Linked DNA regions of Homo sapiens: regions 2, 3, 4 and 5 are each reported to be linked to region 1. The links are microRNA targets in miRTarBase. Many come from high-throughput screens and were not tested one by one. Region 1 holds a microRNA gene; each other region holds the end of a gene's coding sequence.
What was found. The annotated mature microRNA hsa-miR-3153 reads GGGGAAAGCGAGUAGGGACAUUU and lies in region 1 at 1,666-1,688, shown strand. An mRNA with a match to its seed (bases 2 to 7 or 8) in the 3' UTR can be bound and repressed. Matches are read on the target gene's strand: a 7mer-m8 pairs with bases 2 to 8, a 7mer-A1 pairs with bases 2 to 7 and ends in A, and an 8mer does both.

Region 2: the mRNA of RAB7A is a reported target of hsa-miR-3153. Seed matches in the 3' UTR shown: 7mer-m8 at 1,427-1,433.
Region 3: miRTarBase lists FIZ1 as a target of hsa-miR-3153. Seed matches in the 3' UTR shown: 7mer-m8 at 1,273-1,279.
Region 4: miRTarBase lists FBXL19 as a target of hsa-miR-3153. Seed matches in the 3' UTR shown: 7mer-m8 at 932-938.
Region 5: miRTarBase lists ZNF3 as a target of hsa-miR-3153. Seed matches in the 3' UTR shown: 7mer-m8 at 3,907-3,913, 7mer-A1 at 3,787-3,793, 7mer-A1 at 2,863-2,869 and 7mer-A1 at 2,830-2,836.

Annotation. Positions count from the first base shown.
Region 1 is chr9:89,310,609-89,315,136 of GRCh38, forward strand. MIR3153 (microRNA 3153) reads left to right here and starts at 1,617; the gene lies at 1,617-1,698. It overlaps CKS2 (CDC28 protein kinase regulatory subunit 2), which reads left to right and starts at 587. Exons shown (of 3, transcript NM_001827.3): 1 at 587-743. The coding sequence starts at 685. It overlaps LOC105376136 (a long non-coding RNA gene), which reads right to left and starts at 194. Exons shown (of 3, transcript XR_930101.4): 1 at 1-194. RefSeq lists a silencer at 1-122 and enhancers at 133-422, 1,093-1,142.
Region 2 is chr3:128,812,433-128,816,960 of GRCh38, forward strand. RAB7A (RAB7A, member RAS oncogene family) reads left to right here. Exons shown (of 6, transcript NM_004637.6): 6 at 895-2,366. The coding sequence ends at 990. Among named protein-coding and RNA genes, the nearest start is that of MIR12124, 32 kb to the right of the region's middle. RefSeq lists an enhancer at 714-1,008.
Region 3 is chr19:55,588,652-55,593,179 of GRCh38, reverse strand. FIZ1 (FLT3 interacting zinc finger 1) reads left to right here. Exons shown (of 3, transcript NM_032836.3): 3 at 1-1,804. The coding sequence ends at 730. Among named protein-coding and RNA genes, the nearest start is that of FIZ1, 8.6 kb to the left of the region's middle.
Region 4 is chr16:30,946,459-30,950,972 of GRCh38, forward strand. It overlaps FBXL19 (F-box and leucine rich repeat protein 19), which reads left to right. Exons shown (of 11, transcript NM_001382779.1): 10 at 272-490; 11 at 594-2,325. The coding sequence ends at 772. It overlaps ORAI3 (ORAI calcium release-activated calcium modulator 3), which reads left to right and starts at 2,610. Exons shown (of 2, transcript NM_152288.3): 1 at 2,610-3,059. The coding sequence starts at 2,832. RefSeq lists silencers at 2,036-2,285, 2,656-2,915, 2,956-3,005 and enhancers at 2,929-3,447, 3,736-3,965, 3,966-4,483.
Region 5 is chr7:100,067,205-100,071,732 of GRCh38, forward strand. ZNF3 (zinc finger protein 3) reads right to left here. Exons shown (of 6, transcript NM_032924.5): 6 at 2,769-4,528. The coding sequence ends at 3,939. Among named protein-coding and RNA genes, the nearest start is that of ZNF3, 12 kb to the right of the region's middle.

The DNA.
Region 1 (4,528 bases):
CCACGCCGCGGCCGCCCGGCGCTCCCCCGACCCAGCCGACCACGAAGCCGCCCTCCCCCTCACACCGCAGAACCTTTCTGCCTTTTACTACTTTTCAAAGTGGACCTAGGCTCCTGGCTCGAGCCTGAGGGGATACAAGGGATCACGAGGAGCGCCATCACCGTGCAAGGTCGACAGCTTCCGCTCAAAGCCCTGTGGCCCACGCTTCCGGCCTCGACCGACTACGTCATCACCAAACCCCGTGATACCTCACTCCACCTTCAGGTCCTCCGTCCCAACGGTTCCGTGTCCTGGAACTTTCCACGTTCCTGCGCACGCGCTCTGCGGCCCTTAACGTCCCGACTTCGCCCTCCTCTGGCCACGCCCCTGCCCGTTAAGGGCCCTGCCACCCCCGTGACGTACCTATCTTCCCTCGGGCAACCTCGCAACAGATCTCTGATTGGCTGACCCAGGAAGCGGACTTTGCGAGGCGGCGGCGACGATAGGCTGGCAGCCGGCCGACTTCCGCAGAAGGTGATTGGTCGGCGCTGCTGTCCAATCGGCGGCGGGCTGTCGGATTCAAATCCGGATCGTTGGGACTGCGGTCGTTAGTCTCCGGCGAGTTGTTGCCTGGGCTGGACGTGGTTTTGTCTGCTGCGCCCGCTCTTCGCGCTCTCGTTTCATTTTCTGCAGCGCGCCAGCAGGATGGCCCACAAGCAGATCTACTACTCGGACAAGTACTTCGACGAACACTACGAGTACCGGTGGGCGCCTTTCTTAGACCCCGAGCCGGCTCCCTCAGCCGGGGCCCCCGCGGGCGGGGCGACCCAGGCATAGTAGGGTCGGGGGTGGGGGCCGGGGCCTGGGGGGCGGAGCCCGGGGCCGGAGGGCGAGGGCCGGGGTTTGGGGTCGCGGCCACCTGGCGCCCCGCGCAGTCGGACATGGTTGGGTGCCTGGCCGCGCCGGGCCGGTTGGGCCTTTGTTCGGTGTGCGCGGAGGGTGAGGGAAGAGTGCCCACCGGGCCGCATTTAGTACCTGGGTAGGAACCGGCGCAACTTGGGGGTCATGGGGTCCTCGGCGACGCGGAGTGACCATCCCGTCACTTTTTTCTCGGCCGTGGCCGAAGTAATTAGGCCGTTCAGTAGCTGGTCTCAGTTCCAGTTCTTTGAACCAGTCCAGGAAAACCCACCTGGTGCCGTCCTTTTTCCTTTAGCAACCGTGACACACTTTCCCTGTCGCTGACGGGGTGATGCAGCTTTTACTAGTTTGTGGTTTAGAATGGTCAAATGGTCATTTTCATCTGTTAACACAGAGGAACACTTTTCTTTTTCTTGTTTTTGAAGTGAGTGGTATAAGAATAAGCTTTGGAGGCGACCCCCCGAAAAATGAGCTTGATGGGGATTCGAAAATGTTTACTGGGTATGGTGATTTGGGCCATTATAGGTTAGCCGCAGTCATACAATTGAGGGTATTATTAAAGGAGTTTCATTTTAAGGCCGATTAAGAACTTGAGTGGACTTTGGGCATCATTTTCTGCTAGTATACACTGGCCAAATTTTGGGCTTTGAGAAACTTTTGCGTTTGAGTCCTGAAGCACCGTACTAGAACATGGTGGCTGTAATCGATCAGTAAAATTAGACAAATTTTAAATGTCCCTGTCCCCTTCCCCCCAATTAAAGTAGATTGGGGGAAAGCGAGTAGGGACATTTAAAATTTGTTGTCCTTACTGTATGCGGGACACTTCATTTAGGGCGTGGCTTCAGAAAACAGTCAACCCCTTTTTCTTAACTAGGTAGCGACTAGAACGCTGCGTTCTGGGATACTACCAAGATTTAGGGGAGATAAAGCCCATGCCATCGTTGGCCAAATTGTGACCTTGTTTTCTGTCTGCTGCCTTTGTAGGTTAGATTTCTCCGAATGCTATTTAAGGAAGAAAGAACAAAACAGTGGGTGGTTTCTCTTTTTCTCCCCCTCCCTAGTAGCATGGAAGTCTGTTTTCACATGAGGACTACTGAATATTTCTATGGGTAGTAGTAATTGCACCCTTTTGTATTCCTAGCTAGAAAAATAGCATGTTTTTCTGGCTGTAGGTAAATTTCAAGTAGATTGTGTTAACCTTATAGTAATAATAAACTATACTCGTGTAATATGCTGGCAGTGTTCAATTATGCGATGTTAATCAAGAGCCCTATTGAGGATATCCAATAATGAACACAATGTAAACCGTAATAATCTTACTAAAACCTAGAAAATTATTCTGAAACACATCTGGTGCCAAGTGTTTAGGATAAGGATTTAAGGGTCGGTACAAGTTTCTTTTAGGGTATAATATTGAAAATAAATGAAGCTATTTCTCAGACTTCTTTCTGATGGCAGTAGGTCGATTTTTTAGTTTTAATATACTCAAATGATTTGTGTGTGGTAATGTATAGAAGAAAGTTTACATATCTGAAGTGATGTATTTTAATCCAATAAAAATTAGAGCTGGTATTAATTGGCCAAGCCAGTAACCTTTATGAAACAGGATAGTAATTTCCACACATAATTTTAAAGGGGAAACTAGTAATAATATAGCACTAAGGCATGAGTCTAGGGTGGTTTGTATTAATATGTAATGGTGCAGCATGCAATGTAAATTTCAAAGGCTAGTATTTATTTTTCCCAGTGTGCAGTTATCTCTATCTTTCTTTGATTTTTCTTAATTACAAACTTAATTTCCTAGTCCTTTTACGTGAGGGTCTTAATGTTTCTAAGGGCATAACAGTGGGTGCCCCCACCCCCACATCATGGAAGTCTGTTTTCACAAGAGAAAAACTGTTAATTTTTCTGGGCAGCCTTACAAATTAGTAATACTTGCACTATTTTGCATTTCAACTGAAATAAACGTTAGATTTTGGAAATAATTTTCCTTACATGTAGTTAGTTTGAAATCTCTGTGTGGCAAAATACAGGTAGAATCCTCATATGGGGTTGATGCTACTTAAACATTTTTCCTTTATAAAGAAACCCTGATGGAGGAGAGCCTGTTTCCGTGTTTATGGAGAAGGGTGGTAACTTCTATCTAAATAACTTGTTGGTAGATTTATGTACTCTGTAAGTTTGATAGAAAAGGTACAAAAGCACTACATTTCTCTTTGAGAATAATCAACAAGATAGAACGTAGAAATAAGATAACAGATTATTTGAAGTTAGATGTTAAAGCAGCATTTCAAGAATGTGGGTGATAACTGGTAAGAATTACAAAGAATCACTATATAGTTCACTGGAATTGATGAAAACTCTACAAATTATGGTAGTAAGCTATGACTTGGTGGCCTTAAGGCAATCTAACAACACAGTAGAATTTTTCTGAGGCTCACTTTGCCCTGCAAATAAATTGGTACTTAACCACAGACTAAAATTTAAGTTGATGACAGCTGGGTGCTTATAGCGGGTTAGGGATTCAGTTTACTGTGTCTCAGAAAGTGACCAGATTGCACCTCATTCATCCCCAGCCAGCTGACTCACAGACAGATATCTTATACTGGTTAAAAATTTGGGTTGGTGGTTATGGATGGTTCAGTATAAAACTGTTGCTACTACTGCAGGTGGTAAACATGGAGCTGAGAATTGTGACTTTCATAAAGTCCTTTTTATGGTAATTGAGTAAAAATTCTTACTCAATTTGGGGAAAGAGATTTGTTAGGCAAATCTTTGATAGAATGCTTTGGGATACTGTTAATGATACAGATTTGTTTTTGAGAATCTCGTAAGGCTACAATTATACATATTGATGGTTTAACTTTGAAGGTTATTCCATGCTTGCCTAAGAAACTGAACAATGTAAGTTTTGGATATAGGTCAGTAAATTAACTGGAAAACGGTGAGGTTGCACACAATGTGTATGTACAGTTAGTGGTTTTCTGTTTTTAATTTTGAACAAAGTACTTGAAGTATAAAGCAACTTCTGGAGCATACAAGGACTAGTAGCTACTACAAAGCTAGTGTTGAGTAAGAGGAAACCCAAATTAACTGTAACTTAGATTTTTTCGTTACATAAAAGTCTAATAATCTGGGGCAGGGATAACAGCTTTACAGTCAAGGACTAGGCTGGGTCCTTACCTCTTGTTGCTTTACCGTTCTCAATTTACAGTTGCTTCTATGGTCCTAGATTCCTGCTCTGGCTCCCTGATCATATTAATGTGCATTCAACAAGAAGGAGAAAAAGAGTTCAGCATGTTCTTTCCCTTTGAGAACACTTTTCATAATAAGTTACACATTTTCTTATATCTTGTTGGCTTATGATTTGGAGGCTGGTAACCATATGTTCAACTTATATTTTGGGGTTCTCTTCCTGAAGAAGATTAAGGCAACTGGTAAGCATTCTGTGATAAGAGAAAAAGATTAATCCTATGGAAAATGCTTTCTGCTTTTGGATTGTGCACTCTTAGCTCCCTAATTTGAACATAGGCCATCATATCAGAATTAAAGGTAGTAGATTGCAGTTCTCAATATTAAAGCAACAGAGTTCCTTAAGGTACATGTATAAAGCGACAGTTGTAGAAAAGGC
Region 2 (4,528 bases), not on the chromosome of region 1:
AGTATGTATTCCTAGATGTTTTATACTTTTATAGTTATTGTGAATGGAATGATTTTTTTCCTAGATAACTTTTAATGAATAGAAACAGTTCCTGCTTTATCTCCAAATTCTAGAACAGTCACTGGCACACAAGTGCTCAGTGTTTAAGTGACATTGTTTTCCTGCACCCAAAAGTAGAATGCTGCTCCTCATTGGAAGCATGTTACTTTAGCAAAGTGCCACTAAAATGACCATAGTCCATGTGCTCTGATCACTTGTCACAGATGGTGATAAAATTCATTCACAGCTTCCTTTCTAGGCCTGCAGCATTTGGGAGACAAAACTCTGCTAAACCTTTGGAAGAAAAAAGAGACCAGAGGCCATTGGTCCCGAAAAGTGGATGGAAGATAGGGAGGTAGAAGGAATGTTACAGGCTGAGAGGGCAGCTCACACTCAGCTCCAGCCACTTCACCTCGTGCACACACTGGCTGAGGGTTGCCAGATGTTTGAGAAAAGCTAGAAATCCAGACCATTGTTAACCATTGGCAACTATAGGGAACATACAGAAAGCATCTGAACTGGATGTGGTAGAGCTCCCAGATCATGATCTGATTGAGAATGTCCATGAACTTCTGTCCTGATTGCTCAGTGCAGACTGCTGCTTCTTCTGGCAAGACTCCTCTCTTCACATTGACCTGGAGTTGTCACAAAATCTGTTTTTCTCTTGCTACTCCCCTGAGCATGGCACCTTCTGCCAGAGCGCTCCCTTAACTGTGTGGGCAGGCTCTGCTTCACAGCTCCCCGCCCACTCTGCCCAAGCAGAAGTGAGCCCCTCCTGGGCAGAAAGTGCCCGCAATGAGGGCTGAAATGTTTCTATTCCCTGAGTAACCAACCTTTCTCTGTTTCCTTGTCCAGGAAACGGAGGTGGAGCTGTACAACGAATTTCCTGAACCTATCAAACTGGACAAGAATGACCGGGCCAAGGCCTCGGCAGAAAGCTGCAGTTGCTGAGGGGGCAGTGAGAGTTGAGCACAGAGTCCTTCACAAACCAAGAACACACGTAGGCCTTCAACACAATTCCCCTCTCCTCTTCCAAACAAAACATACATTGATCTCTCACATCCAGCTGCCAAAAGAAAACCCCATCAAACACAGTTACACCCCACATATCTCTCACACACACACACACACGCACACACACACACACAGATCTGACGTAATCAAACTCCAGCCCTTGCCCGTGATGGCTCCTTGGGGTCTGCCTGCCCACCCACATGAGCCCGCGAGTATGGCAGCAGGACAAGCCAGCGGTGGAAGTCATTCTGATATGGAGTTGGCATTGGAAGCTTATTCTTTTTGTTCACTGGAGAGAGAGAGAACTGTTTACAGTTAATCTGTGTCTAATTATCTGATTTTTTTTATTGGTCTTGTGGTCTTTTTACCCCCCCTTTCCCCTCCCTCCTTGAAGGCTACCCCTTGGGAAGGCTGGTGCCCCATGCCCCATTACAGGCTCACACCCAGTCTGATCAGGCTGAGTTTTGTATGTATCTATCTGTTAATGCTTGTTACTTTTAACTAATCAGATCTTTTTACAGTATCCATTTATTATGTAATGCTTCTTAGAAAAGAATCTTATAGTACATGTTAATATATGCAACCAATTAAAATGTATAAATTAGTGTAAGAAATTCTTGGATTATGTGTTTAAGTCCTGTAATGCAGGCCTGTAAGGTGGAGGGTTGAACCCTGTTTGGATTGCAGAGTGTTACTCAGAATTGGGAAATCCAGCTAGCGGCAGTATTCTGTACAGTAGACACAAGAATTATGTACGCCTTTTATCAAAGACTTAAGAGCCAAAAAGCTTTTCATCTCTCCAGGGGGAAAACTGTCTAGTTCCCTTCTGTGTCTAAATTTTCCAAAACGTTGATTTGCATAATACAGTGGTATGTGCAATGGATAAATTGCCGTTATTTCAAAAATTAAAATTCTCATTTTCTTTCTTTTTTTTCCCCCCTGCTCCACACTTCAAAACTCCCGTTAGATCAGCATTCTACTACAAGAGTGAAAGGAAAACCCTAACAGATCTGTCCTAGTGATTTTACCTTTGTTCTAGAAGGCGCTCCTTTCAGGGTTGTGGTATTCTTAGGTTAGCGGAGCTTTTTCCTCTTTTCCCCACCCATCTCCCCAATATTGCCCATTATTAATTAACCTCTTTCTTTGGTTGGAACCCTGGCAGTTCTGCTCCCTTCCTAGGATCTGCCCCTGCATTGTAGCTTGCTTAACGGAGCACTTCTCCTTTTTCCAAAGGTCTACATTCTAGGGTGTGGGCTGAGTTCTTCTGTAAAGAGATGAACGCAATGCCAATAAAATTGAACAAGAACAATGATCATCTGCCTTTGCCAGAGTCTTTTTTTCCTTCTTCAAGAGCCTTGGCTCAGTAGAGACCACATGAGCTAATCATAGTCAATGCCTTATCAAGCAAGAGAGCCCTCCATAAATGGGCACGTGTGGTGCTTCAAGGCAGAAAGGCCCTCTCATATCTGGTCCTGTAGTGCCTGTCCCTAGTTTTTTTTTGTTTGTTTTTTTTTCCGGGGGCGGGGGTGGGTGTATTTTAATCACATTGTTGGAGGTTGAGGACCATGGATGGAGAACGCATTGTCCCTTTAGGAGAGCAGCCAGAAACTGCTGGGGACTCTGAGCCATGCATATCCTGTAGGTGTAACTGTAACCTAGTCATGTGTTATGTGTTTTATTTTTAGTTGACCTAGTTGCTAACACTTAGATGTGTAATTCTGCATTTGTCACAGGAGAGGAAGATTTGGCAGCAGAGGCCCTGTATTCCAACATATGTAAGCCCCCACCTGGAATGGAATAGTTGCCACTTAGAAGCAATTTTATTAAAATAGTAGTAGTTCAGGTCGTGAGTCACTTTAGGTTTTGCAGAAGTGCCTCATTGAGTTAGATCTTGAATTCTACTTTGCTACACTTTTCTACATTTCCACTTCTCAGGCTCCTCAGCTGGTTTCTTTCCTCGTGGCTCCTCTTGGCATGTACTTTATGTGTTAAAAATAGCATAGTTTAGAAGTTCAGATGCTGCACAATGTGAGATTATCCACAGTGCAATTCCACCCTGGCTGGGTGGCTTAAATCTTCTCTGGTCCTATATTTTGCTTGGGCCTCATCAGGTGTTTGTCCTCTAGAGGAGCAGAGTTCTCTCCAGCTTGGGGCCCAGTGACTGGGCCACAGGGTGTGGACCCTTGTGTGATGCTCACCTCTGCAAATCAGGCATCTATTCCTCTGATTGTGTTCCACTGGTCTTGACCTTGTATGTGACATTAAAATGGACCTTGACTTCTGACCTGCTTGACCTTCATCCTAAAACTGATGATCATCCTGATATTAACCTGCTTTAGCTTGAGATGAATGTAATCTTTAATTGACTGATTTCAACCATTGTCCTTATCATAACTTACCCTAATTTTAATGGCTTTGGCTTTGAACTGGCTTTGACTTTACCCTAAACACGTTCACTGCTGAATGACCTTGACTCTGACCCACCTCCTGACCCTAATCATCACCTGACTTTGAAGTTAACATGGAACCCTACCATGACAATAGGTCTTACTCTCTGACCTGGGACTAATTAGTCTCATGTCCCATCAGCCTGATGGCTGAGCTTGGTGTCATATTTTAACCCTAAATTGTATAATGTTCATCTAAGGGATTCAGCTTAACCACAATAGGGAGCCATGGCTGAGACTGAGCTCTGCATCAACACAGTGCCTTTTTCTTTTTTTTATTTTTTTATTTTATTTTATTTATTTATTTATTTATTTTTGATCATTCTTGGGTGTTTCTCAGAGGGGGATTTGGCAGGGTCATAGGACAATAGTGGAGGGAAGGTCAGCAGATAAACAAGTGAACAAAGGTCTCTGGTTTTCCTAGGCAGAGGACCCTGCGGCCTTCCGCAGCATTTGTGTCCCTGGGTACTTGAGATTAGGGAGTGGTGATGACTCTTAATGCTCATTAAGAGTCATCACAGTGCCTTTTTCTATATTCCTATTTAGATTCAGCATAAGCATGTGTTTTCTCTCAAAAGAGGGGAACTTGTCATTTTGCTGGAATAAGCAGTAAGGATTTACTTTTGTGAAGAATATCTGGGACTGAGTTTGTCTGCAGTACTATGGATTGTTTGGGTTCATTCATATTTGCCTTGAGGTGAGAATGAGAGATGAGTGTGTTGCTGGGTTTGCATCCATCTCAGTTTGCGCTAACAAATATTCAGAAGTTATTTTTGGCGAGGCACACTGGCTCACACCTGTAATCCCAGCACTTTGGGAGGTCAAGGTGGGTGGATCACCTGAGGCCAGGAGTTTGAGACCAGCCTGGGCAACATGGCAAAACCCCATCTCTAATAAAAATACAAAATGTAGGCGGGCGTGGTTGTGGGCACCTGTAGCCTCAGCTACTTGGGAGGCTGAGGCAGGAGAATCGCTTGAACCTGGAAGACAGAGGTTGCAATGAGCCAAGATTGCGCCACTGCACTCCA
Region 3 (4,528 bases), not on the chromosome of region 1:
CCCGGGCGCGCCCCCAGCGCAGGCCTGGGCCGCGGGGCCAGGCGCAGGGCCCGAGACGGCGGGCGAAGGCACCGCTGCGGAGGCGGGCGACGCTCCTCTGGCTTCGGACCGCAGGCTGCTCCTGGGCCCCGCGGGGGGCGGCGTGCCCAAGCTCGGGGGGCTGCTCCCCGAGGGCGGTGGGGAGGCGCCTGCACCTGCGGCGGCCGCCGAGCCCTCGGAAGACACCCTGTACCAGTGCGACTGCGGGACCTTCTTTGCGTCGGCCGCGGCCCTGGCCAGTCACCTGGAGGCCCACTCGGGCCCGGCCACCTACGGCTGCGGCCACTGCGGGGCTCTGTACGCGGCGCTGGCCGCCTTGGAGGAGCACCGGCGGGTCAGCCACGGTGAGGGCGGCGGGGAGGAGGCGGCGACCGCCGCCCGGGAAAGGGAACCGGCGTCCGGGGAACCCCCGTCTGGCTCCGGCCGCGGCAAGAAGATCTTCGGCTGCTCCGAGTGCGAGAAGCTGTTCCGCTCACCGCGAGACCTGGAGCGGCACGTGCTGGTGCACACTGGCGAGAAGCCGTTCCCGTGCCTGGAGTGCGGCAAGTTCTTCCGCCACGAGTGCTACCTCAAGCGCCACCGGCTGCTGCACGGCACCGAGCGGCCCTTCCCTTGCCACATCTGCGGCAAGGGCTTCATCACGCTCAGCAACCTCTCCAGGCACCTGAAGCTGCACCGGGGCATGGACTGACTGCCAGGCTGCGTGCGCCCTGCCCTCCACCCAGCCTCCTGGACTCGGCCTGGACCAGGGGACCTCGGGACTGCGCGTGAGGCCCCGGCCCTCCAAATCCAAATCCAGACGCAGGCCCTGAAATGAGGGGACCCTGACTGGAGAGGTGGGGGCCACCAAAAACCCACAAAGGCCCCGGAGCTGGGGGACCACAAACAAACAGGGTCCTTAGCTGGGGCAGGGGAGCCCAAATCTAGGGAGAGACTCCTGAGCCTGAGGTCCCTGGAATGAGTGTGGGTAGCCGTAAGTCCCCAAGACATGGGGACTTTGCAGTGAGCAATGGGTCTCCACAAGTACCTCTCATCTTGAGAGCCCTAATACTAAAAGATGGGCACCCACCCCCACCAAGGGAAGACTGCCCCATTCCCTGAGAGCCATCATTCCTAACGACCTTGATCTGGAGAATGTGGAGGGAGCATGTCCCTGAATTTTCCTAGATCCCTCCAAATGCCACCCACCAGAGTCACTGGTGACCCCAGAAAATGGATATAGCCGAAATCTGCCTTTCCCCTTTTTCATTCCCTGTGCTGAAAGAGGGACCAGGGTAGATGCCCCCTGCCCTCGAATCCCCCCTCCCCGACTGTGGAATGGATCGACCCTAACGATCTTCCCCGCCCCAAACACTAGAATAGACTGGCCTGAAATCCCCTTGCCCAGTAGAATGGACTGATCTATGTGCACACACCCCCATCACATGGAATGGGCTGGTCTAGGCTGTGGCCTGCCACCTTCCTTAGAGTGAATAGGGCGGACACTCCTCTCTTTTCCTGTAGCGTGTGGACCGGTCCACGCAATTCTTTATCCTGTGAACTCATCTGAGTGGGAGGTGGTGGACACTGGGGTTTCCTTCCCTCTCTCCGTAGCATCCGTTGGTCTTTCTCTCCATCTCTGTTGGTTTGTCTGTCTCTGTCTTCCTCCCAATCCCTAGGGGAAGGGGGCATTTGGCTAGGGGGTGCCCCTGTGAGCCTCGACCTTGCCCCCTCGTCCCTCTCCCCAGTGTTTCCAGGACCCCCAATAAACCTTGTCCTGTCAGTCGCTGATGCCTCATTTTCTGATCCTTGGCTCCAGGCGGGGGGGATGGGGAATCTCTTAGGACAGACTCCCTAAATAGAGACGGGTCCTCGTTTTCTCCTGAGAAGTTTCAAAGCTTTGAATAGTACATGCCCTTTTAAATTAGAGTCGGTTTAGGCTGGGCTTGGTGGCTCACGCTTGTAATCCCAGCACTTGGGGAGGCCGAGGCAGATAACCTGAGGTCAGGAGTTCAAGACCGTGCCTGGCCAACATGGGGAAACCCTGTTTCTACTAAAAATACAAAAATTAGCCGGGTGTGATGGCACATGCCTGTAATCCCAGCTACTCGGGAGGCTGAGGCAGGAGGATCTCTTGAACCTGGGAGGTGGAGGTTGCAGTGAGCCGATATTGCACCACTGCACTCCAGCCTGAGCAACAGAGCGAGACTCTGTTTCATAAATAAATACAATTAGAGTCAGTATCAATCAAAATGAGTTCCGTCCCTTAAATACATGATCCACCTCCAACAGACGGACACGCCCCCTAGAAACTAGACACGCCCTTTAGAAGTCACCAATCTTATAGGACACACCCCTTGGAAACCAAACTGCCTCATTAGAGGCGTGTCTGAGCAGAGGCCCCGCCTCTTAGATGCTGCCTTGGACCCTATACCAGACCCCCAGAATAGGACCCGCTCATCAGAGAATTGGGGGTGGGGGTGCCTTCAGACTGTCTCCTGCACACTGCATTGTGTTCCCGTACTGAAGGCTTATTCTGAGCCAGGCGTTGGAACTCCCTGTGGGGATCATCCCGGCCCTCCTGGGGTTTATGTTCTGTCGTGTAGGCGACGGGTATGGAGAAAAGAGGAATCAAGTAAATGTAGAAAATAATTTCAGATCGTCCTGAGCATTCTGAAGGCAATAGGGAAGGGTGGTAAGAAAATGAATGGCCACCTTACTCACTTTTTATGCCACCTTAGATGGGGTGGTCCATGTGGGCTTCTCGGCGGAGGTGGCGTTTGATCTGAGCCCTGAAGGGTAAGGGTGAGCAAGGACCTGCCAGGAGGATGCCCAAATGGACACAGGAGGAAAGTGAGCTCAGGGAGGGAAGGATGAGATGAGGTTAACAGGTGGGTAGACGTCACATCACAGTAAGCCAGGCAAGCCAAAACAGGTGTTTGACTGTGTTCTCTGGGTGATGGGAAGCAAAGTGTTAATCGAGGAGGGAAGGGACCACCCTTGCATCTTACCAAGATCCCTGTGGCTGCTGAGTGTAAACGAAGCTGCAGGACGCAGAGTCAGGAGAGTGCAGCGCTCCTGCAGTCCAGGAGAAACTTGTGGGAGCCTAAACCAGAGTGACCAACAGAAATCACGCCTGTAACCCCAGCACTTTGGGAGGTCGAGGCGGGAGAATCACTTGAGCTCAGGAGTTTGAGACCAGCCTAGGCAACATAGTGGGACCCTGTCTGTACTAAACATAATAAAATAAAACAAAACAAAGAAATGGGTGGGTTGGAGATGAACTCTGGAGTACGAATGCAGAGGACTGGTTGTGTGCATGTGTGTATTGGTTGGGGGTGAGTGTAATGGGAAGGGAGAAATCAGGAATAAATGGTTGAGTGGTGGCATTTCTTACTAAGACCAGAAAACTGAGGGAGGACACATTTAAGTAGGAGTTTAGGAGAATCAAAGTTTCCTCCCCTTTAGTTCCTTAAGATTTTTTTGTTTGTTTTTGAGATAGGGGCTCACTCTGTTGCCCAGACTGGAGTGCAATAGTGTGATCTCGGCTCACAGCAAACTCCACCTCCTGGGTTCAAGTGATTCTCATGCCTTAGCCTCCCAAGTAGCTGGGATTACAGATGTGCACCACTACACCTAGCTAATTTTTGTATTTTTAGTAGAGACGGGCTTTCACCATGTTGGTCAGATTGGTCTCGAACTCCTGACCTCAGGTGATCGATCTGCCCGCCTCGGCCTCCCAAAGTGCTGGGATTACAGGTGTGAGCCACTGCACCCTGCTGAGTTTCTTAAATTAAATGCCCCACAGGTTGCCATTCTCAAATATTGAACATACATATATCCTGTGATGCAGGAATTCTACTGCTAGGCGTAAATGCTAACTCAAGTCCCCCTGCACCCAGAGACATACAAAAACATTCATAGCAGCAATACTTTCAACCCCAAACTCAGGACAACCAAAACGCCCATCAGCAATACAGTGGATAATTAGCGATGGCATATTATGCAGTGGAATACTATACGGCAACAAGAATGAATGAGCTGCAGATAAACACAGTATCATGAATGAAAGTTACAAAGATACAGGACCCAAAAAGCCAGAAACAGAGCATGATTTCATTTACATAACATTGAGGCCAGGTGCAGTGGCTCACGCCTATAGTCCCAGCACTTTGGAAGGCCAAGGCAGGAGGATTGCTTGAGTCCAGGAGTTCGAGATCAGCCTGGGCAACATGGCAAGACCCCGTCTCGAGTAAAAATACAAAAAATAGCCAGGTGTGGTGGCGTGTGCCTGTAGGCCCAGCTACTCGGGGGGCTGAGACAGGAGGATCGCTGGAGCCTGGGGTAGGGGGACGGAGGTTGCAGTGAGCTAAGATCATTCCACTGCATTCCAGCCTGGCCAACAGAGGGAGACCCTGTCTCCAAAAAAAAAAAAAAAAAAAAAGCAAACCCATTATAATGCACATAAAACTAAACTGTAATATTGTTAAGGATACATTGTCAGTAGTAA
Region 4 (4,514 bases), not on the chromosome of region 1:
CTTCCCAAAGTGCTAGGATTACAGGCATGAGCCACCACGCCTGGCAGAATATTGTAGTCTCAAATACAATAATCATGGAAGGCCTCCGAGGAGGTGATGTGAGGAGTGGACAGATGAGGTCAGGCCATGAGGGTGTTTTTGAGAAGAGCAAGCCACAGAGTGCACCAGGTCACTCACTTATGTGGGAAGCAGGTGGAGGGCAGATGGTCTGGATACCTGGGCGCAGGGATGGGAGTGGCCAGGAGTGCTGACCTCTCATCTGGCTGCCCAGGGCAAACAGAGAGCCGTGGTCGGCTGCAGGGGGTGGCAGAACTGCGTCTGGCAGGTTTGGAGCTGACAGATGCCTCCCTGCGTCTCCTGCTGCGTCACGCACCCCAGCTGAGCGCCCTGGACCTGAGCCACTGCGCCCACGTCGGGGACCCCAGTGTTCACCTCCTCACGGCCCCCACGTCCCCACTCCGCGAGACCCTGGTGCACCTCAATCTTGCTGGTAAGCACGGTCCCCCATCCGTCCTGCCAGCCTGTGGATCCCCACGGCCAGTGCCAACCCCTTGCTCACCTGCCTGGTCTCAGCTCCACTGCCCCATCCCCAGGTTGCCACCGCCTAACGGACCACTGCCTCCCGCTGTTCCGCCGCTGCCCTCGTCTACGCCGCCTAGACCTGCGCTCCTGCCGCCAGCTCTCACCCGAAGCTTGTGCCCGGCTGGCAGCTGCCGGGCCCCCTGGCCCCTTCCGCTGCCCTGAGGAGAAGCTGCTTCTCAAGGACAGCTAGTTGGGCGCCCCCCACCCTCCCCCGGACTCGACAGGAGCCTGGACCTCCGGCTTCATTTCACCCCTGCTGGGAGGCCAGGTTCCCACCTCACCACCCTGGGATTCCTGAGTGTCAGTGACTTGGGATTCCCACCCAGGGACTCAAGCCAGCCACCCCCTTCTTTCCCCCCTGCACTGATATCTCTGGGGGTTTCTCCTTCCTATGTCCTGCCCCTGCTACCTGCTTCATTGTCCATCCCCTGGGGGAGTGGGTCAGAGGTACTGGAGGGTGCTGAGCCGAAGGGACGGTGGGAGGGGGGTTATGGTGCAAGTGTTGGGGGGGAGAATGGGGAAAGGACACACACAGGATATGGGAGCCAGGGGCTGGGGGAGGTGGAAGGGGCGGGGGGCGGGGCAGACAGCAGACCACCAAGGGTTCAGGGAACAAAGACCAGTTACTTGGAGTGGGGGGTGGGGGTGGGGCCACAAAAGGAAAACCGGAGGAGCAATTGGGGATCCAGGTGTCAGAGGTAGGGGAACCAGGGGCAAGCTGGGGCTGAGCTGGAGGTGGGGATGAGAGCAGGTGTGGGGACAGCAATACCCCCTTGGGGGTCACCTCTCTGCTTCCCCCCTCCCCAGGCTTCAGTTCCTTCCCCCTGACCCTGACTCCTTGAACGTCACTGAAAACGGCAGCTATTGCAAGGAGTGGGGGCCGCGGGCAGCCGCTCTTCAGCTCGCGGCCCAGGGGAGTGGCGAGGGGCGCCCCAACCCCCTGCCCGCCTCTCCGCACAATACTTGAACATTCATCTGTACTGAAGTGTTACTTGAACCGGGGGAATCTCGGACCTGGGGGAGCCGGGGTGTGAGGGGACTGGACCAGCTTGGACTGAGACCTGAGACCGGGCCGGTGGGCGCCCATTTGGGACTGCGCCACCCCCAGGCTTGTTCTTGTTTTACTGTATTGAGCGGCGGCACCCGCCGGACCCGCATTATGGCTGGGGGCGCCAGCCCAAGAATGGGGACCATGGGACTCCTCCAGCCTGGCTCTTCCCACTCTTTCATCGTCATGGAAACTTGTATCCCATTTGCCCAGGGAACTGCCACTCCTGGTTGCCATGGAAATAGCAGCCAACGGACACCTCCCGATGCCAGTGCTAAGGCTGGAAATGGCCCCCTCTTAGTTGCCATGGGAACCTAGTAACAGACTCTGCTGGCCCTCCTTCCCTGCCCCTTCCTCGAGCGCGGGGTGGGGCTTCGGGACCCCGGGGATGAGCCGGGCCAGGTCCCGCCCCTCCGCGCAGGCCTCCGGGGGGCCGGGGCTTACCATGTAGGGGAGGGGAGATCTATCCACATACCTCAGGTAACAGGGAGGTGCGCGGGTGGGGGGAGGGCTGGGCGGACCAAAGGCCGGAGGGGTGGGGCCTGGGGATAGCGAGAGGCTTGAGAATGGGGCCGCTTGGGGGAGGGAAGAGGCAGCCCGGCGAGGGGCAAGCGGGGGACCCAGCCGGGCTGGGCCCCTGGGCCCCGGGTCTGTACAATACGGTTTGCTATAAAACTCAAAATCTTCCAGCCGGGGCTGCGGAGTTCGTGTGTGTATCTGCGGGGTCCCTACCTACAGATGAGTGGGCTCACCTCTCCTGGACTCATTTTGGGAGGGATTTGGAAGTGTGGACACCTGGGGTGTCCAGCTGTACCTTGGAGGGGGCTGGGGTTGGCGTGCACCTCGGTGGGGTCCGGGCGCTTGGATAACGTTCTTGGTGGGTAGGGGTCGCGGGGAATCTCTGCGGGCCCGGGACTGCGGGGACTTGGTCCCCGGCTCCACCCCATCATGTGGCTAGCCCCGGCTCCGCCTCTGTCCCAGTTCCTGTTTTGGCCTCCGCTGTCCCGCTCCGGCTCCTGGGGCTCCCCGCAGACGCTGCTTTTCTTGCTCCACTGGGGGTGCCTCTTCCTGGGCGCCCGCCGCCTGCATCCTGCTCGTCCTGTCTGGGAATGGGGCCGCCCCCGGGCTTGGGCCGGCCCGGCTGGGGCCCCCGAGGCGCTTCCGCCCCGTAGTGACCGCCTGGTGCCGCCCCCCCCCCAGGATGAAGGGCGGCGAGGGGGACGCGGGCGAGCAGGCCCCGCTGAACCCTGAGGGCGAGAGCCCTGCAGGCTCGGCCACGTACCGGGAGTTCGTGCACCGCGGCTACCTGGACCTCATGGGGGCCAGTCAGCACTCGCTGCGGGCGCTCAGCTGGCGCCGCCTCTACCTCAGCCGGGCCAAGCTCAAAGCTTCCAGCCGCACGTCTGCCTTGCTCTCGGGCTTCGCCATGGTGAGGGGCCGGGAGGGGTCACACCCGGTGGGGCAGAGCAAGTGGGGGGCACAGGTCGGGGGGGGGGCGAAGTAAACAGGTCCCAAGGGAGACAGGTTAAAGGGGGCTTTCGTCAAAGGGGGAAGGAACAAGGTCCCGCGGGACTGAGCAAGTCCCTTCTTACGGATGTGTGTGTACAGGGGACCCCAGGAGACGGGGCCACCGGAGGACACGAAAGTCCTAAAGGTGTCGTAGTGGGAGTGGGGTGAACAAATCGCTGGTGGGGTTGACTGCAACAGTGAGGCAGAGTGGTCCAGATGGAGCCTGTACCTGGCAGAAGTGGTTCCTAAGTCCCAGTGCCAGCTTCAAAGGCAGGTCAGCTGGGTGGGGGCTGCATCAACAGGTGGGGGGCTCGAGATGGATTAGCTGGGTGGAAGGGTCACCCAGCTGAAGGTGGGCCCGTCCCAGGGAAGGTGGCCACTCTCCAGCGGGCCCAAGGGGTGCTAGTGTCAACCAGGAAAACTGACAAGAGATCATGCCCGGGAGGGAACCGCTGGGGAAGGAGGCTGATGAGGAAACTGATAAGCGAGTCTCAAGCTGATAAACCCCAGGTGCAGGAGGACGGTGTTGGCTAACGGTCTGCCCCAGCAGTGGCCTCACAGGAAGTGGGATGGAGGGAGGTCCCAGGGTGAGGATCAGCAGACACAGTCCTGGCTCCTCCCTGCTTGTGGCCAGCTGTGTGACCCTGGACAGGCCTCCACCCCGCTTGCAAGCCAGTGGGAAACTGAGATCATGGAGGGTGCGCCCTCTGTAGCCAGCCAAGTAACCGCCCCAGGGTGAGCCAGGCATGTCAGAGCAGGTCACGTACCAAGGATGGCTCAGACTAGCCTGCTAATTGGACAGGTGTGGAAAGTAAAAGCCTTGCCTCTGGGCAGGAGCGAATGAACTGGGACCCAGGGTTGCTGCTCTGTTAGTCTGGGGTTGCCCCACCATCACCCCAGGAAAAAGGAGAAAGTGAGCTGCAGGAGGTACTTTGGGGAACGCACTCCTGTGGGGGTGGATATCAGAGGCGGTTGGGGTGGGGACCATGGCGCTAGGGGATCTGGGCTAGTCCCTGCCCTGTCTGTGCCACAACCTCCATATTTGAACAATGACAGGGAAACTCTCTAACCCTAAGGGTCATCATAAGCCTATGGTCTTCTATGTGGGGTCCCAGAATCCACAGACCAGCTTACCTTTCATGATGGGGGCATCACCTAGGGACAGGATGTTGGCTCCCCTTCATCTGCACAGCCTGCAGAGGGAAGGGAGCAGCCACCCAAGCTGAGGGAGGTCAACCCCATGGTCCAGCCTGTTCCCAAGGAGACAATCCCTCCACGGCAGAATATGCAGGTGCAGGTTGCTGGGGTGACAGCTTAAGGGCCCGAGCCTTCTCTGCAGGAGGAAGGGGCTGGAGGTTTAGGTTCCGGGGGCAGG
Region 5 (4,528 bases), not on the chromosome of region 1:
TGAGGCAGCTGTCACTGAACAATCCCGGTGCTCCCCTCACTTCATCCTTTATTGTCTGAGTGAACGGGAAGCTATTTGGGCCTTCCGAGATAACATAGGTGTTTGGTTCTCAGATCTCGTGTAAGAAATTCATTTTAACACACGCTGAGTCTGCTGACACCCTTTCTCTGCTCATCATTTTAGCAGCTCTACCTCATTTACTGTAGGCCATCATTCCTCGCCAAGTATTGGATTTTTTTCTTTTCAGAGAGACAGGGGTCTCATTATATTGCCTAGGCTAGTTTCCAACTCCTGGGCTCAAGCAGTCCTCCCATCTCAGCTTCCTGAGTAGCTGGGACTACAGATGTGTGCCACCACGCCCAGCTAATTTTTATTTTTGTAGAGACTGGGTCTCACTATGTTGCCCAGGCTGGGCTTGAACTCCTGAGTTCAAGCGATTCTCCTGCCTTACCCTCCCAGAGTGCTGAGATTACAGGCGTGAGCCACTGCACCCAGCTGATTAATACATGAAAACCACTCGGAAAAGAGCCAGGCAACGCTGACACAGAGTATATGCCATGTATCAGCTACTGCTACCATCACTTGCAAATCCCATCTCCTCTACAATCTCAACTCTGAAAACAGTATCATTCCACTCCATCTTTACTGAACCTGCCCAGGCTTGATGCTGGTTAGATGGAGGAGGATGAGGAGTATAATCAAAGAAAACTTACAAAATTTTGATCCTGACAGGTTTACAGAAATTTTAAGAGGGGGCAATAAATGGGAAAGTGGGATCTGGTTTGAAACATACTATGAAACTGTAGAAAGTCCAGGTGTAACTGCTCTGCAGTCCACTGGAGACCCACGACTGAGGCTTGGGAGAGCCATCAGGACATGGGCAGGTTTTTTTCTTCTTCTTCGAGACAGTCTCGCTCTGTCACCCAGGCTGGAGTGCAGCAGCATTATCTCAGCTCACTGCAACCTCTGCCTCCTGGGTTCAAGTGATTCTCCTGCCTCAGCCTCCCGAGTAGCTGGGATTACAGGCATGTGCCACCAAGCCTAATTTTTCTATTTTTAGTAGAGACAGAGTTTTACCGTGTTGGCCAGGCTAGTCTCAAACTCTCACCTCGTGATCCGCCCGCCTTGGCCTCCCAAAGTGCTGGGATTACAGCCATGAGAACACAGATTTAAAATTTATTTGCATAGGCTGGGCGTAGTGGCACATGCTTGTAATCCCAGCACTTTCGGAGGCCGAGGCAGGCAGATCATGAGGTCAGGAGTTCAAGACCAGCCTGGCCAACATGGTGAAATCCCGTTGTCTATTAAAAATACAAAAGTTAGCTGGGCGTGGTGGTGGGCGCCTGTAATCTCAGATACTAGTGAGGCTGAGGTTGCAGTGAGCCGAGATTGGTCCACTGCACTCCAGCCTGGGCAAGAGCAAGACTCCATCTCAAAAAAAAAAAATGGCAATCTATAAAGTAATTTCATTTCATTTTTGAGACTGTCTTGCTCTGTTATCGTGTGGTGGTGCAATCACAGGGGCTCACTGCAGGCTCAACTTCCTAGGCTCAAGCAGTCCTCTCACCTCAGCCTCCCGAGTAGCTGGGACCACAAGTGTGCACCACCACACCCAGCTAATTTTTTTTTTGAGATGGAGTCTCACTCTGTTGCCCAGGCTGGAGTACAATGGAGCAATCTTGGTTCACCGCAACCACTGCCACCTGCATTTAAGCGATTCTCCTCCCTCAGTCTCCTGAGTAGCTGGGATTACAGGCACGTGCCACCACACCTGGCTGATATATATATATAATTTTTTTTTTTTTAGGAGAGAGAGCATTTCACCATGTTGGTCAGGCTGGTCTCGAACTCCTGACCTTGTGATCCGCCCACCTCGGCCTCCCAAAGTGCTAGGATTACAACTGTGAGCCACTGCGCTCAGCCCTAATTTTTTTTTTTTAATTTTGTTGTAGAGATAGGGTCTTGCCACGTTGCCTAGGCTGGTCTGAAGAGATTCTACTGCCTTGGCCTCCCTAAGTGTTGGGATTATAAGCATGAGCCACTGTACCTAGCCTATAAAGAAATTTTAGGGCCAGGCATGGTGGCTCACGCCTATAATCCCAGCACTTTGAGGCTGAGGCCGGCAGATTGCTAGAGCTCAGTTTAAGACCAGCCTGGGCAACATGGTGAAACCCCATCTCTACTAAAAATACAAAAATTAGCTGGGGCGTGGTGGTGCACACCTGTAGTCCCAGCTACTCTAGAGACTGAGGCACGGGAAGTGCTTGAACCCGGGAGGCAGAGGCAGCAGTGAGCCAAGATGGTGCCACTGCATTCCTGCCTGAGCAACAGTGCTAGACTCTGTCTCAAAAAAAAAAAAAAAAAAAAAATTAAGTCAACTTTCAAATTCCATTTATAGTTACCAACATGTCTTGTCTTTTTTTTTTGAGATGGAGTTTCGCTTTTCTTGCCCAGGCTGGAGTTCAATGGCGCGATCTCAGCTCACCACAACCTGCGCCTCCCGGGTTCAAGTAGTTCTCCTGGCTCAGCCTCCTGAGTAGCTAGGATTATAGGCATGTGCCACCATGCCCGGCTAATTTTGTGTTTTTAGTAGAGACGGGGTTTCTCCATGTTGGTCAGGCTGGTCTAGAACTCCAGACCTCAGGTGATCTGCCTGCCTTGGCCTCCCAGAGTGCTGGGATTACAGGCATGAGCCACTGCACCCAGCCAACATGTCTTGTTTTAACTGAAATATATGGTCCAAACATTGCACAAAACCACACTCAATCTCTTCTGAAAAACTATTCTGTTTAATAGTGCACTTCATTTATGCTACAGGATGAGCAGGGTTGGGAAAACACAATGGAAGGTCATCCCGTCGGTTGGGAAAACTCGGGGAGTGCCATCCTCACCCAGCAACGAGCTCTGCTACCAGGCTCAGGCACAGCCTGCCTTCTCTGGGCTTCGTTTTTTTGTTTTTTTGTTTTTTTTTTCTCCCTTTTGGGCTTTGCTCTTTCTCTGCATTAATCTTCAGCTGCTGAAGAGTCAGAGGTGGAGGCAGGAGTGGTCTGGCTCCTGGGGCTGGGTGTCAGAGGTGAGAGGGCAGGGCAAGCAGGCCAAGTGAGCTCCTTGAAAGCATCCTTACCCAGGCATTTAGAGAAAATCATTTTCATCATTGGAGTGGGAAGAGGACAAGAGAGGACAGCAATCAGAGGCCAACGCTAAGTGCTTCTGACCCTCTCCCTCACAGCCGGTTACTAGCTGTTTGGACAGATTTGCCCATTCAGCCCCAGGACAACTGGGGGGGATGGCAGGGGGTCTGCTGGCAATATCACCAGGTTTCTCTTGGAAACATGGTCTGGCTGCTCCAAGAGCCCTAAAGGACACCATCATCACAGATGATGATTCTGGAATCTCTTCTACCCTCAATAAAATAATCCCTCAATGCCAAATTTCCATAATTAACGAAATCATGAAACAAAACAGCATGTTTCTTACCGAAACTTAAAGCTGGACTAGGAACAGTAGCTTTGAAATAGTCTCCCTTTACCCTCCCTAGCAAATAACAGGACCCAGAGCGTCCTTTCCACTGCTGTCTGTGCTGACTACGCGGACTCCAACTAAAGGAATCCATCGAATTCTGTCCCGACTGTGCTTCCATCCCCACCTTGGAAAGGTTCCTCTGCTGTGAGAAAAACAGTTTAGTGCAAACTCCTTTCCTAAATGGGGTAACTGGTCCCAGAGCTGCTTTCTATTCCCAGCACGCCATCCACTTGCCTTGACGCTTTCTAAGGCTGGTGTGATTTCTGGGAAAATTCAACGATTTGCCCCATCTGCCCCATTCTCTAAAATGAAAAGTCTGAGTTGAAAGGGACACATCCTAAGCTGTTGAGATTTATAGGGTAAGGCAAGAGCTCTTGAGACTCAGGGAAAGTGAGGAAAATGGGTGTGTGGCTCTTTCACGTGGACTCTCTGATATTTAACTCGGTCGTAACTCTGAGGGAGCTTTTGCTCATGCCGATCCCATTCAAAGGCTTCTCTCCAGTGTGAATTCTCTGATGGCGAACAAGAGCCGAGCTGTACCTGAAGGCTTTCCCACACTCACTACATTCATAGGGGTTCTCCCCGGTGTGGATTCTTTGATGCTGAATAAGGCCTGAACTGTAGGTAAACTTTCCTCCACATTCCATACATTCGTAGGGCTTCTCTCCAGTGTGGATTCTCTGGTGCTGATAGAGGTGTGAGCTCTGGCTGAAGGCTTTCCCACATTCATTACATTCATAGGGTTTTTCTCCAGTGTGGATTCTCTGATGGTGAATAAGGGTTGAGCTCCTGCTGAAGGCCTTCCCACATTCATTGCAGGCGTAGGGTTTCTCACCAGTGTGGATTCTCTGATGGTGGGTGAGGGTGGAGCTCCAGCTGAAGGTCTTCCCACACTCATTACATTCATAGGGTTTCTCCCCCGTGTGGATCCTCCGATGCAGAATGAGGGCAGAGCTACAGCTGAAGGTTTTCCCACAATCACTACATTCATAAGGTTTTTCCCCAG